Linked DNA regions of Homo sapiens: region 2 is linked to region 1. The links come from fine-mapping of genetic effects on gene expression. Tissue or cell type: whole blood. Region 1 holds a variant in brackets; the other region holds the start of a gene. All regions are shown on one strand. Distances are from middle to middle.

Region 1 (8,100 bases):
GTTTATTTTTGCAGGCTTTAAGTTATAGCCACCTCTGAGGTGTCTGAAATCTGAACCAAGTGTGAGACCTGTCCTTAAACTTCCCAGTCTCTCTGGCCCATCCAGGTAGGGCCTCAGAGCAAAGCCACTTGCTCCTGGAGGCCTGAGTCTCTGGAAAGGTGGCAGAGAGAAAGGCAGACACAGGGGGTAGGAAAGAACAAGAGGTAGGAACCTGAAAGCTTTAGTCTGCACCTCCTGCCAGGGTCTTGCTGTTCCCAAACGTCTAGTTGCTGCATAACTAACCACCCCCCTCCAAGTCTGGGGGGCCTGGGAAACTTTGTTATGCAGAGGCACTCAAAGCATGGGGTTTACTTTGGGGCTGCAGCCACCCAGGAATCCTACTAGCCTCTTCCTCTCCTTTTCCCTTTGTAGCTACAGCTTGCACCTTCACGGGGGAGATTGGGAGTGCAAATTTCAGGGAACTACCCCCACCACTGGTGGATCTGAGGGCCCCAGACCCTAAGCCCCAGTAAATGTAGCCCAGAGGGATTCTCTTTAGATGATTCATTTGGAGCAGGAACAAATCACGTCTAGTGGGTTTTGTTTTTCCTCTCTGTGTGAGCGTTTCCCTCCCTGGGGTTTCATCATCCTCCCAGATCTTTCCATGTCCCCCTGTTCTCCATGCCCTGGGGCTGCAGCAGCGCTGCCAGGCCCCAGAAAATGCACCCTGGATCCCACACAAGTTTTTTTTTAAATGTGTCCCACACTACTCCTCGAGCGCCCAGTAGTTTGGTTTGGTTTTGTTTTAAATCATTGGCCTAAAACGAGTCTTAAAATCCAGTCTTTTTCTAAAGAGAAACGAGAGGACACAGGCCCGCGTTGCGCTGAGGGTCCCGGCAATGACTCCGGTGGGGTGCCTGCCCGCTTCCCGCAGAGAAGCCCTCGGGCAGGCGCCGGCAGCATCCTCTCCCCTGCGTCTCGAGGGCCGCCCTTGAGGAGTTTCATGCCCAGGGTCGCGGAACCAGTGGCTCCCCAGGCTGTCACCCGGGGTGAGCGCCTGCACCACTCTGCGGCCTTGTTGATTTTGTCCTAAAAGCCTGAGCGAAATGGAAATATGGGGGGCAGGGGTCTGCTGTTGGCTTGTGAATGCTCGCCTTTGTCCCTCAGGCGGTCGGCCACCAGCCTGGCATTCTGTCCCTGCACTGGTCACTCTCATTTGGCAGGCGGGGCCGCAGACTACATAGAGGAAGTGTGCCGCGAGTGGGGTTAGGTGCCAGCACGAGGCCTTACAAGGTTCCCGGATAGCCCTGGCGCACGCCTTGGCCATCATAGAGGAGGGAGGGGGACCTGACAGGGCGCGGACGTGCCGGCCCGAGGGTGGAGGCGGGGGTCCCCCATCCCAGCTGTTCTCCTGGCCCTGCAGCACCCGGGACCCGAAATAGCAAGTTCACCCTGGGTCACACTTGCGAGAACCAACCCGCACCCCACCCCAGAAAGGGCTCAGTCCGCACCTTTCGAGAACTGCTCGCGGGCCCAGGGAGTCGGCCTAGCGGTCACATTTCAACCTGGAGCAGCTTCGGAGGAGTTGAGTCTGGGGAGCAGGGGAGAGCGACCTGATTGGAAGGAGGGTGCCGAAGAGCCCTGGACAGCGGGAGTGCCCGACCCTGCCCAAGAAGGGGCCTGCCCGCGGCCGCGAGGGCTCCGGGCCACCAGCCTCAGCTGCCACCCAGTGCCTGGCCAAGACGCAGGGCCCGGCCTCCGAGGGCCGCGGGCACCGGGGACCTGCGTAGGCCTCTCCGCTGCGCTCCTCTGCGGGGCGCCCTCTCCCTGGCGCGCCTCTGAACCTGGCATCGAAGCCGCCCGATAGATACTTCGAACAATCCGGGAGAGAAAGAAAAAGAACTCAGTTTGCCCGCGTAAACGCTGCTAGTAACTCTCAGAAGTTTCCTGGTTTCTCGTAAAGGTGGCCGGGGCCGTTTACAGTAAGAACGGAATAATGTTTGCGACTGTACGACATAATTATCTCCAGACTTGCCTCTACCCCGCCCCCAGCTAGGGTTTTCACCAGCGAAAGCGGCTAATGCATTTGCACACATTAAACATCTTGAACGCATAATTACAGGCTGCAGACAGGCTGGACAATAAAATATCTCGGCTCGATATTTTTGGAAGCCTTTTGTGATGGTGCCTGGAATAAATAACAACCGCTTTCTATGTCCTCAGCCATCTAACTGCAGCCACCGTTATTTCAGAACACCCCCACCCCACCTCGGAGGGGCAGAAGTGGGGGACTTCAGCGGAAGGGTGCGGTCGCCTGAAGAGGTCTCCTGAGCCTCGGGTGCGTGTGGGCTTGGAGGACTGGAATAAGAAGAAAATATGTTCCAAGCCCTGAGGGCCCTCTTCCTCATTAGAGGCACACAAGTGGGGCCCTCTAGGCCCCACACCCTCTGGGCGCGTGCCCTCCCTGACTCCCTACGCCAAGACTAAAAAATTTGAAGACTCAGACCACATGTTCCTACCTCACAATCTCTCTAAAAAGAGCCTCTCTATACTGAACCGGCTCCTGTCACCTGAGAAATCTGCTGGAAAAGAAAGCTGGATATTGAAGCAGCAAGACCCAGAGGAAGAAGCTGCTGGTTAGTCTCTGGCTGGTTATTTTCTTCCACAGATGCCTGGGACCCTAGCTTCCCTTGAGTCTTAGTTGCTTTGTCTGTAAAATGGAGATGATTGTAATAACCTTGGGACCAACCTCACAGGTTGTTAGGAGGAAGCACTTAAAAATTTTTTTATTGCCATATAACTTACGTATAGCAAAGCATACAAATCTTAAGCCCCCAGTTCACTGAATTTTTATATATGTATACATTTGTGTAACTACTACAAAGATCAAGATAAAGAGTATTAGCAGCCCCCAGAAGGCCATGAAGAAGCACTATGAGAACTAATTTTAGACAGTGATAGTGTTATCTCTAAGTCAAGAGATCAACAGGTCAGTCTAGTATGTGGCCCTTGAAGACACTTGATAGTGTCTTCAAGACAAGAATTGACAAACCAAATATACATGTCAAGGGGCTGTGGGAATCTCTGGTCTGGAGGAGCATTTGTGGGCCTTTTCTGCAAACCCCTAGGCACTCAGGGATTGGGGGAAAATTGAAGATCAGGCTTTAATTCGTTTTGAGACAACGCATTCTCTTTTGTGAATGGCTGGGGCTGGCATGTTCATTTACAAGTTAGGGGTAAGCCCAGAGAGAGAGGCCTGAGAACCTCTCCCAGGGGATGGAAATCTGAGTTGATGTCCGTAAGACTAAGATTCAAGCCTTGGGGTAACTTATTTCAGTGTTCTCCCCTGAATCCAAGGCTGGTATGATGTGTGGAGGAAATTCCCCAAAGGAATATGTGGCCATGAGATACATAGGGTAACCAGTTTTCTGAAAAGTATAACCTCAATAGCTAATACATACAATTGGTGCACTTCACAAACACTACAAAAAGATTTTATAGAAAAAAAATTCTCTACTCAGATCCTCTGAACACCAGTTCTTCCCAGGGGAAGCACTGTTACTGATGACTTGTCTGTCCTTCTAGCCCTTTTGTACATTCCTTCTTTTTTAAAAGCACAGTGGTAAGCTCTCACTACATATGCTGCCCTGTTCTTGGAGCTTTTCCTAAATACTGCCCATGACAATTCTCCATGACAGGTATACTGGCTCAGAAAGATATGCTCATCCCAGATAAAATTGAAGCCAACCTTGTCTAGCCTGACACACAGAAGGGCTGCTTTAGCCTGGGTTCTAGATCCTGGCCCACAGTTAATGGGTTTGGTGACCTTAAAAACAGTCAGCTAACTTGGCCGCAACATCATTACCAGCACCCCCTTTCTCCCTAGGGGAGCAGAGCCATGGGGAGGAGGCAATAAGGCACTGACCATGACTAGACCTTCAACCAGTTTCTGGAGTCAGGGGAAATTGAAAGTGCTTCTTGGAATTTTTAACTATTCTGTCTAGCAGCTATAAAAACTGTGCTCAGGTCATTAGCCCACCCTGAGTGTCTACCTCCGATCCCATTTCCTTAGTCCTCTTTGGAGCTCGATGGGGTGGCCCTGGGCCTGGCCCCCACCCAGGCCTGACAGAGGCAGGAGGGTATGGCGGGGGCCTAGGGCTTTGCCCCAGACCTTGGACCCCGCAGCGTCTGCCAGGAGACGTCGGAGGAAACGCTTTTACCACCTGGGCGACCTTGACTGCAGCCGATTAAAGTTTAATCCGAGGTGTGTGCTCAGACTTGCCATGTTATTTAAACACATCAAAGGTCATAAAAAGATTCCAATGGCGTGAGCCGCTCCGACGCGGGCCCGCAGGGAGCCAGCATTTGATTCTGGTGGATTTCCAGAGCCAGGATTTAGAGCGCAGGGCGGGAAGGGGAGTATAGGAAAAAAAGGGAAAAGCCAGCTTTCACAGAGGAATGCTAGACTTCAAAAAGCGGCAGGGGAAACCGAGTCTCGGCCCGAGGAGCAGAGACAGCGCCCTTGAGTTCCGATTAACTGGGAAGACATCTAGTGGGAAGAGGTCGCAACTGCAGCGGTGTCCTGCGAGCATCCTCCGCCGCCGCCCACAGCGACTGCAACCTCCTGGATTGGATGGGGGTGGGAGGCCTCAAAGAGAAGCCTCTCTCTCCCTGGCCTCCCCGTCGACAGTGGAGTGCTTACTTTATTGCCTGCGTGATTGCAGGGCTGGGTCTGGGTTCCCACCCAGGGCAGAGACGCTATTTCCACCTTGACAAGAAAGATCTAGCTGTCCACCGAAAGCACAGGGCCCAGGATGCCTGGATTCCCATCTAACTCTTCCTGGG[G/C]CTCCTGATCCTAATGCGGGCAAATCCCTGGAGCGCCCATATGTAGGTTCTCCTGGAGGGTGCAGAGTGGCTCTGGGGACCAACAGATTGCTGCAGAAGTTAAGTGAGTCCAGAGGCTGGCATGCAAAACCGCTGGAGCTACAGACTGCTGCCCACGAGGCCTTTGGCAAAGCACAGGAGCCTAGCTTCTTAGGATTCGAAGGTGACATTTTCCCCATCTCTGCCGTGGGGCCATCTGGCCAGATCTGATCCTGGCTGCCTTCTTGCATCCAGATTCTAATTTCTGTGAAGGATTGGCCTCTCTCACAACCCCATGGAAATGAGCCCCACATATAGAGAGCTGGCTCTTATCTGAGCTCCTCTGGCCCCACCAGCACCTCCTAACCTTATGGCCAAAAGATAGAGAATTCTGTGCAGGCCTCTCCATGTGCCTCTGAGATGCTCACTGCAGGTTCTCTATTGGGTGCCTTCGCCTGCTTCAAATGGGGTCCGCCTTGTAGGGGTGTGCCTCCTTGCTGACCACTTTGGCTGAGTCTGAGTCTGAGTTCTCTCCTTCAGTCTTTTTTTTTTTTTTTTTTTTTTTTGAGACAGGGTCTCACTCTTTCGCCCAGGCTGGAACATAGTGGTACTATCATGGCTCACTGCAGCCTCAACTTGCTGGGGATCAAGCAATCCTCCCACCTCAGCCTCCCCAGTAGCTGGGACCACAGGCACATGCTACCACACCTGGCTAATTTTTGTGTTTTTTAAAGAGACTGGGTTTCTCCATGTTGCCCAGGCTCTCTCAGTCTATTAGTTGTGGCATTAGATCATCCTAGAATTGTCAGGAAGAGTGGCACCAGTATACTCCTTTTGGGAATGATATAGAAGGCCAAGGAACCATGCTCCACATTTCAATGTATGAATCCCAGGACATTGTGGAGCCCCCACAGGCAGCTCTACCGATAGAGTTTCCAGGGCTTCTGTAGGAGGCCCCCCACCCTGTCATGCTCAAGTCTCTGGGACCTAGCATCGGCCAGGCCTCTGGGAAGCGGCCTCTTCCTTTTCCATTTTACCCATCAAGTTGCCTACCCATACTCCTCCAGGGTTCGCACTCTCCCTGATTCTCAAATGAAGGCTTAAGGGACCCTGTTCTTTGGCTTTGTTACACAACCCCCTACAACCCCCACCCCCCTTGAAAAAATGGAAGAACTGGAAATAGTGGAAGAGGCCATTCTAGCAAATGCCTTGAAGCCCTTCACTGAGACATTAGCCGTCTCTTATCACTCACAGAAGTGTTTCCCCAAAGGGGTACAAGGGCTATGACTCCTTCTGTGCTCCCACCAATCACCTAATGGCTGGATAAACCTCAGGTAGGAAGACTCCGTTGTTTTATTTAATCAGCTACAGACTATTAAAGTAGCAGTGGGTAAGGGCTAGGGGAAGAAAGGACTGCAGGTGGGCTAACCAGATTTAGCTTCAGAAAAACTGAGACCCAGATCATGTCACAAGTGAACCTGGGATCCAAGGGCCTGGATCAGTCCAGGTCACATGCTGAGTTCCAATGGGCTGCTGTGTGAGCTTGGAGCAGAGCTGATCCCTTAATCCTCTCAACCTGAGACAGACAAACATACACACACACACACACACACACACACACACACACACACACACACGATCCAGAAAGTCCCCTCCCAGCTCACCTGGTTAGGCCCACACTGGACCCCTGTCTGGATTCCACACCCCCAGCCAAGCAACCCTGCTCTGCTCCCAGCAGAAATCACAGGGACTTCTATTCCTCAGGGTGACAAACGAGTCTGCTTGCTCTTGGTGACATCAAATTACTTTGCACCAGCCTAGGGTCCCATGACCTGACATAACCTCACATTAGATCCTAGAAATGTAAAGAAATATGGCCTTTTAAAAGTGGCTGAGAGCAGGTAATTGCTAGCAGGCTTGAAGGGTTGTCCCAAGCTCAGCTCGCGACCTCTGCCTCCGAAGCTGATACCAGCAGGAATTCATGCGTTTGGACTCTCTATGGGCAGAAGGTCGAGCCTGCATTTAACTCTGGACAATAATCAGGTTCTTAAAGCCCAGATTGTTTTTGTGCAGTTACAGAAATCACAGGGAGGCTTTGGACCTAAATGGCAAGGAACACTCGACAGTGGCACCGCCCCCACTGCCCCCCAGCCAGGCTTCCACAAAGAACAGGCTTCAGCGGAGAATGGGCTTCTGCTAAGCTTTAAAAACAGGCCTTCTTTGAGCTGCTGTAGCTTAAATTTTTGTGGAGAATTACAGTTTCATTGCTTCTTATTCTTCTCCCTCCCATCTCTCCCTTCCTCTTTGTCTCCTGGCTTGTCTGTGGCTTCTCTCTTCCCCTCTCCCTCTTCCTCCGAATTGTTTGACTTCTGCAGTCCCCACCCTTACCCTGACCCGAGCCCTCACCCCTGCGGTGAACTCCATCTTAGGATCTGGAGACATGGGACCCTTAAACCCACCACTGTGCCCAAGGCTTGGTAGGAGTCAATCTTGCTGATACCCCACAGACAGTGGGCAGAGAGCTCATGGCTTCTGCAACATATAGTTGGAGTCGTTCGAGATTATTGTAAAATATGTACACACACTTTCTTCTCTTTTTTAATTTACATACCCCTTATGAGTTTCATCAAATAGCTCTTTTCTAATACCATGAGAATTTATATGCTTAGTGTAAAAGCATCCCAGATATTTAATCACTACTCAAAAAAATTAATTAAGAAACCATAAACAACCCAAATACAAAATACTGCCATAGAAAAGATGATCAGTATCCACTCAGACAAGTGGGGTTAGAATTTATTAAGCAGCCGGGTAGTGTAAAAGTTGTCAAATTCAACCGTGTGCTATTTTCTGTTTTTACCTTTTTGCTTTCTGAAGTTGCCAAGCCTTTCAGTTAAGTCACTTTCAGAGTTCGACAGGGAGAATCATGCTCGTTGTAAATGAGACTACCAGATTAAAACAAAAGAAACCAGAACATCTTTATTCATTCTTTTTTAAAAATAATCCCTTATTGCTAGGGGGATATTTTCAACGCATGGCATTGAATTTCTTCCTGAAAACTGCGGTTGCTCTGATAAGCCATCAATTCAGTGCAAACTTTCCTAGTTTAATCATTAGAAATTTCTTTTGTGTTTCTACCAGGGGAGAAGTTGTGCTGAAATGAAATATAGTCATTTACCCACTAATAAGTGAATATGTGTTAATTTAGGACACACTAAGGACTGAGGTATGTTTTTTGTGTTCCTCCATAATTCTGAT
Region 2 (8,100 bases), 80 kb after region 1:
TGCCTCATGTGTGAGTTGCAACTGAAGAGCTAAACAATATTTTATTTTTCATGCATCTAGAATGGCTTTAAGTGTTGGTGCTGTAAGAATCTATTTTCCAGAGGACATATTTCCCTTTTCTATGAATTGACCTTCAAGGGATCAGTATAGGAAAACAGAGAAGAGAAAAGTGAAATATTTTCCCTAGGTTTTTCTTTTTTAACTTTGGAAATAATTCATCTACTCAGAATGTGGACTCTTGCAGGAATGTTTAAGATCATCCCAATATTTTGGTTGATTGGATTTAATGGTGCCAGGTATGTTCAGTGGTAAAGTAAATATTTTCCAAACACTGCCTTCATGGAAGTAATCAGGGTGCTTCTGTGCAATGTGTAAAGTTTTCACTCTGGCCAAGAGCTTGAAGCCAAATGGGGGTTTGCCAGATGAAACAGAAGAAAGGAAACAACTGTGGTGATTGCTGTTGCAGCAGTGAACATTTCACCACATTTGGGCTAGTGAAATGAGGAAAACTGAAACCCCTCGATGAGTCAACAAGACAATTACGTGTCTCTTTGGGAAAAACCTTTTTATTGTGCTTTTTGGTTAAAAACATGTGACACACCTTATAGACATGTCAGCTTCAAAAACCATAGATACCTCTTAGCTAGTCTTCAAAGTAAAAGAAAAGAGTACTTGCAGAATTTATTGCTTTTAGTGTGCTTGCTTTATCTGGAGGATTTTGAACCTCAGGCCTCTCAAACAATCCCAGTTAAAATTCATGTGTAATCCCAATATGAATATCAGTCCTCATCCCTGCGTTGTGTGCATTATTTTAAACTACTACAAGAAAATTATCCCCAAAGAATTAATTGGTCAAATGGCTGGTAAAGTGTTGTTCCTCTCAAATCTTGTGTCTAGTGTAGGTGGTGGGGAAGCCTTCAAATGCCACCATCAGGCGTTTTGAAATTCTGCCATTCCACTGTTCAGCTCTAGAGACATGCATCAGATAGAGAACAGTCTGGGGGACTCTCGCTCTAAAGAACAAAGGACAAATACAGTCAATACATTCCATAACGTTTACATTTCCTTTGGCTTTTCCCCTTGGTTTTTCCTGAGAAGGAGTGACCTGGGCAAAGCACCCTGCTCTCTAAAAGACACTGTATAGACCTTTTAGAAGCGCAAAGTCCAAGGCCGAGGTGAACTTCAGGTCAGTGCGTCTAACAAATATGAAAATGTCGGCTAGTGAAGGGCGCGCCTTGTGATTTAACAAAGACTGTCAATGTGTAAGATTAATAAGAAACAAAATGCACACGGTGTCACTGTTCGGTCACTTTGAAACTTGGGACAGGGTTGCATTCAAGAGGGAATGCTGTTACAAATATATTCAAAATGATTCAAATCAGATTCAAACCAAGCTGCAAAACATTGCCTCCCTTGCACCCTCCCTCTCCCTCCGACTCCCTTCACTCTTCTCCATCTGGGATTCGAGGACATGATGAAAAGTTATTTCACCTAATGGGATTTTAAGAAAGCTTTTGTTGGGAATATATGTTATCCCTGCACGTGGAAATGAGCAAACGTGCTCACCAGTTTCCTAAGGAAAGGATAACGCTTTCACCCCGCTTGGGACTGGAGCCAGTTGGTGTGTGAGGATTAGCATGCTCCCTCTCTGCTACATTTCAGGGCATCCCATCTTTTCTCAGGCGAGATGCTGCTGGTAAACTTCAGTTTGTTTATTAATTGAGTTAGTTTCTTCCTGGCTTTACTTTGGTGTCTTGGATATTGTGTAAAGGCAAGAGGTATTTTTTTTAAATGTTTTTCAAAAGATTATTTGATTCAATGGAATGATGCTATGGTTTGCAAAGGGAGATTGAGGAAGGTTCAGAAAAGGTACTGAGATTGTTTATTACAGCCATAAATCTTGCAGTAAAATGTCAAAATGTCGGTGTTGAGATAACACTTGGTGGTCCTGGCTCCGTTTGTGTTTATGATACGAACCACAAAGACAAGTTACAGGCCTTGGGGGATTCTGTGTAAGGCCATCTTCCTAAAGTAATAGAATCACACAAAACACAGGCACAGCTAACTCGTTTGGGTTAACCGTATACAAAACAGTGTTTATGTCTCGTTAATACTTAAAAATAGAAACTTGGTACAAGGTTCTGAGGCTAAACAACAGAATTTTGTGTTTTAGTGTCTGTAAATATTAAACAGATATGGTTAAGACCCTAGTACTCAAGGCTGATGACATGAGAAGGAGGGAAGATTTCCTTGTCATGCTTTTTGTCCCCCTGAAACTTATAGGGTTCAGATTTGTAATACGTATGTCTATATATTATTTATATTACATTTTATATAACCTATGTGTATATTATTTTTTCTTGCTAGGGAGAGATATTGGTTCAGGTAGATGTATCACATTCTAAATTTTTCCTCCAGTCTAGAGAGGATGGCTAAAGATTACACTCAGTGTTGATTTCTGTCTGTGGCTCAAATTTCTTTAAAAACAAATTTTCAGGGTGCCTCATGTGAATGGACAGCACTCTTCACACTCATATACACCTAACGTGGAAAATCTCTTTGTACCTCTTCAGGGTGATTCCAGTTAGAAAGCTAATATGATCCCCTTTTTAACCTCTTTTCCTAAATTAGTTTAAAGATTAGTCCCATATAATAGGCTTTATGTGGCTAAGCATTAAGTGACTATCCATCAAATGGATATATTCCAGCATTTAGTAACTCATATGAGTAACCAGTATGAATGAAGATAGAATTGACATTCCTTTTCAAGTGTCTCCAGGCTTAGGAAATAATTTTCCTTGTCTGCGTTCCAGACTCAGTTGTGAGAAGGCTGTTTATACTGCTCTTTGAAAAATCAACTAAGGTGCACCAGCTGAAAAATCCTTGCTTTTGCATGCCAATATGAAAATATTTTTAGAATGGTGACTATGCTAGTTTACACTGCTTTAATTTAGGCTGAAAAGTAGAGGATCTAGATATGTCTACTACTCAGAAAAGAAAGGGAGAAAGCACACAGCACAAATAAGGCATCAGTATTTACTTCAAAGATCAACATTAGGTGGAATTAATAAGTAATTTATTTGTTAATAATGGCGTAATTAGTGTACCCATCAAATTTCAATTACCAAATAGCAGGCAACAGTCTCCTCTCCCTCCTTTCCGGAGCTTCTGATATCGTTAATACGCTAATTTTCAGCAATTCAGAAATTATAGACTGTCCTGCAAATATAACTCTAGCCTCAGATACTGCCTGAGAAAGCAGGATCTAAAAGAGAAAACATGAAATTCTTAGCTGGAAAAGACCCATCAGCGATCAGACCCGGCAAGGTGTTTATTCTACCCTTAGCTTGTTTTTGTTTGGGGATAGTTCTGAAATAGGAAGTTATTGTTTTCAAAGCTCGGTTCTGTGGAGGTGTTGCTTCTATCCATTCCCATCCTTGGGCCACCTTCTCTCTCACAATCGCACCTAGTAAATGCGGGCATATTTAGCTCTCACATCGACAACCCCCGTCAAATTAGATGCTATTACGAAGGTTCCAATTTTTCTTAGGAAAACACGAAACAGATTGTCTCTGAAAGAAGGAAAAAATGAAAAGTGTCCATCCAGTTATAATGGAATGGCCTCGATTTACATCCTTGGGTCGATTTCTCTTAGCTGCCCGCCCACCCTTTGCAGCTTCTGCCAAGCTTCTCAAAGCAAGGGCTCTCAGGCTGACACGCAAGGAGCAGGGTGTGGGGAAGGGGGATCTGCGGTTGAGAAAATGTGTCTGGTGGCCTCTCAGTGGCGTACATAAAAACCAGGATGCCCCTCGGTCCCAACGCCCTTCCTTTCGCCTGTTAGCCTAGAACCCCTGAAGGACACGAAGCCTGACTGGGTTGCGCCCGAGGTCAGCGCTGAGTCGCGGCCGCCAGACAGCCCGAGGCCTAGGCCAGCAGTAGGGCAGGCAGAGGGCTCCCGAGAGGACCTACAGCCTGACAGGGCCTGAATTCCCAGCGGGAACCAAAGCTGGGGGGCTGGGGTCCAAAGCTCCTGCTCCCTCCCCCAGCCCAGGGGCCGGACAGCAGCATCCATCACGCACCCGCGCGTTTCCTGATCCGGGTCCGCGCGCGCGGTGCGCCCATTGGTGGGGGCGCTGCACGTGGGGCACGGGGCGGGGCGCGCGCTGGGCTGGGGAGGAGCGGCTCGAACTTTGGTGGCGGCGTCTGCGGGAGGGGGAGGAGTGGGCACTTGACAGCGGGGGGAGGGGAAGGGCGCAGAGGAAAGGGGGATGGGAAGCGAGGCAGGAGGGGGAGGGGCCTCGGCAAGCCCAGAAAAAACGACAACGCGAGAAAAATTAGTATTTTTGCACTTCACAAATTAATGACCATGAGCTCGTTTTTGATAAACTCCAACTACATCGAGCCCAAGTTCCCTCCCTTCGAGGAGTACGCGCAGCACAGCGGCTCGGGCGGCGCAGACGGCGGCCCGGGCGGGGGCCCCGGCTACCAGCAGCCCCCAGCGCCCCCGACCCAGCACCTGCCGCTGCAGCAGCCCCAGCTCCCTCACGCGGGCGGCGGCCGAGAGCCCACTGCCTCCTACTACGCGCCGCGGACCGCCCGCGAGCCCGCCTACCCTGCTGCCGCGCTGTACCCCGCGCATGGGGCCGCGGACACCGCCTACCCCTATGGCTACCGCGGCGGCGCCAGCCCCGGGCGGCCGCCCCAGCCCGAGCAGCCCCCGGCGCAAGCCAAGGGCCCAGCGCACGGCCTGCATGCGAGCCACGTCCTGCAGCCCCAGCTGCCGCCGCCCCTGCAGCCTCGCGCCGTGCCCCCAGCGGCCCCGCGGCGCTGCGAGGCGGCCCCCGCCACCCCAGGCGTCCCGGCAGGGGGCAGCGCCCCCGCGTGCCCGCTGCTCTTGGCCGACAAGAGCCCGCTGGGCCTGAAGGGCAAGGAGCCCGTGGTGTACCCCTGGATGAAGAAGATCCATGTCAGCGCCGGTACGTGGCGCCGCTTGGGAGGCGCGGGAGGTGGGCCGGGGCTGGGCCTGGGTTCGAGGGTCGGGGTCAGGAGGGAGAGGCTCAGGGGAAGGGGGCCTCGGGAGGGGAGCCCCCATCTGACCCGGGCTGCGGTGAGATGTGGGTATGTGCGCGCCAGCCAGCCGCCTGATCCCAACATGAGAACCCTTTTGTACCCAGGGTCCCTTTATCAGGAGATTTACGAGACGCCAAACTGTTAGGGCAGTAATTATAGCCCCCATAAATTTAATTGCCCTGGCAGAGGCTTCAGGCCATGTGTCTTTGAAGCTTTTCTTCAGCCCCAATGCCCAGCACCATTCTTTATGGCTCTCGGGTGTTTCCCGTTGTCAATAGCCTGTGAAACATTTTCTTTGCCGTTTTATGTATCTTGCGTGAACTTGGTGTCAGGTTATTATATAATGATGATGTCCAATTGCTCTTCCCCACCCCACCTTCTCTCTCCTCCTCCTTTCCCTCTCTTCCGCTCCCTCCTCCTTGGCCTTCTATTTCGGGGTTCTGGGTTTTCAGTTAACCCCAGTTATAACGGAGGGGAGCCTAAGCGCTCTCGAACCGCCTACACCCGGCAGCAGGTCTTGGAGCTGGAGAAGGAGTTCCACTTCAATCGATACCTGACCCGGCGGCGCCGCATCGAGATCGCCCACACGCTCTGTTTGTCTGAGCGCCAGGTCAAGATCTGGTTTCAGAACCGGAGGATGAAGTGGAAGAAAGACCACAAACTGCCCAACACCAAGATGCGATCCTCCAATTCGGCCTCGGCCTCTGCCGGCCCACCAGGGAAAGCACAAACTCAGAGCCCACACCTCCATCCCCACCCCCACCCGAGCACCTCCACACCCGTTCCCTCCTCCATATAATCTTCTAGAGATCTTAACCAGTTTCTATCCCTTACCTGCTTTTCTCTTCTCTTCTCCTGCTCCGTTCCTCATCCACCCCTCCCCATCTGGACCATAATAGACACCAAAACAAACCCAAATTGGTGAAAAGAATAATCAAAAAGAAGACATTATCCGGTTAAGAGTCTGTGCTGGTTGCCACCCAAGAGAGAACAGTTGTCCAGGATGCTGGCTGGTGGAACAACCTGCTGGCCCGAAACAAGGCTGCCAGGTGTGGATACCTGAGAAGGACTACTTGGTATCAAATACTTTTGAGATGGCTACAGTCAGCTAGCTGGACAGCCCATGCTGAGTGGGGACATACACTTGCATCTTTGTTGAAAGCAGAAGAAGACAGACCCTTTCCCCACCTTCCTTACCTCCTCTTCCCCCATTAAGGCAGCTCATCCAAGCTTGTATTTAACTGAATAAATGAGTAGACATTGTGGACCTCACAAGATTATTTAATTCTTAAGATGTGTAGACCTTGATGGTAGGTGTGACATGTTAGTTTTTCTTACTTGCATTTATTTAAGACACTGTTACAGAGATACTGTTGTCCCCTTCTGGGGCACGGTCTTTGGGGAGAGGGGAGTGCATTTAGACTTATGTGGAACTGTACAAATTGTGATGTGGCTACATAGAAAGCCATGTGCTAAGAATAAACTCCATTTAAAAAACATTAAAAATCTAAGATTCATGTGTTTTCTAAGCTTTTCATTAAGAAAACAAAAGTCCTCTGGATTGAGATACTTGACCTTGCATGTAAAAACCTTGTAGATAGCTTGAGCTGGATTCACTTGGATTCTGACGGCTCACATAATTTGTGTGTGAGAGTGTGTGTATGTATGTTCAACTTGAGCTGAACTCTTGTCAAGCTTGGCCTACTGTGGAAAAGTTCCAAAGAGTAGGAAGGCTCTTGAGCTCTGAGAGGGCTCCTCTTCTTCCCAAACTTGGCCAGGCTTTCAGGCTTCAAGTCTCTGTAAGGCATAGAAACGTGTCCTTCCCTGCAATGAAAGTTGAAACCATGCAGTGCTGTGGGCCCAGGAGTTTCTGCAGCTGTTCTACACACTGAACTCTGAGCACACTTGGAAAGAAGTGGTCTCTTTGGTATTTGGTATTTGTTGCACCTTCACACTTAATCTGCCTGTTTCCCAGGAGATAAAAAATAGTTTGTGCAAAGGGTTGAGATTAGTTTTTGTTTCCTGGCTGTTCTTAAGGTCCTCTTCACTAACTACAGACTGGGAATTTTTGTTTGTTTGCTTGTTTGTTTCTCTTTTTTGAAGAAAGAGCTTTCAAATAAACTGAATTTTACAAGTACACTCTCCAATGTCTCTTCTGAGGAAAAAGCATAATATACCCCTAAAGTTCACCCCATGCAAAGTAGACCTGGGAGAGTTTACTGCTGGAAAATAGCCAAACTGGGTCACTTTCCTCAAATGCTTTGTGAATTTTCTGCTCGATTCCAGAGATCTAGATCCAAAAGGCTGAAAATCAAAACCCACTTCTCGATCTCTATAACCCTAGTATTTGTTTACTGATTTAGATTTGATGCTTACTGCAGGGAGTTCCCTACAATAAGACCACAAAAACCTGTGCACACTAGCCCCAGAATATTAGAACTGTCACCTGGCCTTGAAAAAGTGCAACTTTTAAGTAATGTAGTAATTTTAGCATAGATGGGAGTAAGTGCTCACCTGCCTCTGCAATATCAGAGAATTTTTAAACACATTTCTCTCATTAGTGGCAAAACCCTTTAGCCAGTGTCAGAGCTGGTACCCCTTTCACCCCTGCTGCCCTGTGTGTGATACAAACAAGGGTGATCCGTTCTATACCTACAAATCAGATTTGAGAGGAAAGTGATAGATACCAGTCTCTGAAGAGCCAAGAAAATTCGGGAGCAATCAAATACACACTTACCTTCCCAAATCAGGATAAACCTGGCATAAAGTGCATTTTATAAGGTGTGAACGGGTGCCAGGGATTTCTGGAGGCAATGCAACTGCTGCTGAAACTTATTAACCCTCCCCCTACTACACACACTTGTAAAACAAAATTAAATCACGCTGAAAATAGCAATTTTCCCAGGAATCATTAATCACCTCAAACAATAAATACTTCTTTGTAATTCAACAGCAATTCTGAAAGGCATTCTCTGGGAAAAGTCTGTGGAGGAGAGAGGGATCTTCTTGCAAATAATGTGGTCTCAGGCA

The links. PIP is the estimated chance that this variant, and not a neighbour inherited with it, causes the effect.
Region 2: it holds the start of HOXA4, and the variant in region 1 is fine-mapped to the expression of HOXA4 in whole blood (TOPMed, PIP above 0.99).

What each region holds. Positions count from the first base shown.
Region 1 is chr7:27,206,955-27,215,054 of GRCh38, reverse strand. It overlaps HOTTIP (HOXA distal transcript antisense RNA), which reads right to left. Exons shown (of 3, transcript NR_037843.3): 3 at 7,796-8,100. Among named protein-coding and RNA genes, the nearest start is that of HOTTIP, 11 kb to the right of the region's middle. RefSeq lists enhancers at 653-1,401, 1,402-2,151, 3,707-4,207, 4,208-4,708. The variant G/C (reference allele first, on the strand shown) is at 4,825.
Region 2 is chr7:27,126,994-27,135,093 of GRCh38, reverse strand. HOXA4 (homeobox A4) reads left to right here and starts at 4,337. Exons shown (of 2, transcript NM_002141.5): 1 at 4,337-4,976; 2 at 5,523-6,569. The coding sequence starts at 4,361. The coding sequence ends at 5,869. It overlaps HOXA3 (homeobox A3), which reads left to right. Exons shown (of 6, transcript NM_153631.3): 3 at 8,024-8,100. HOXA-AS2 (HOXA cluster antisense RNA 2) reads right to left here. Exons shown (of 4, transcript NR_122069.1): 4 at 6,334-6,894. RefSeq lists a silencer at 4,110-4,179.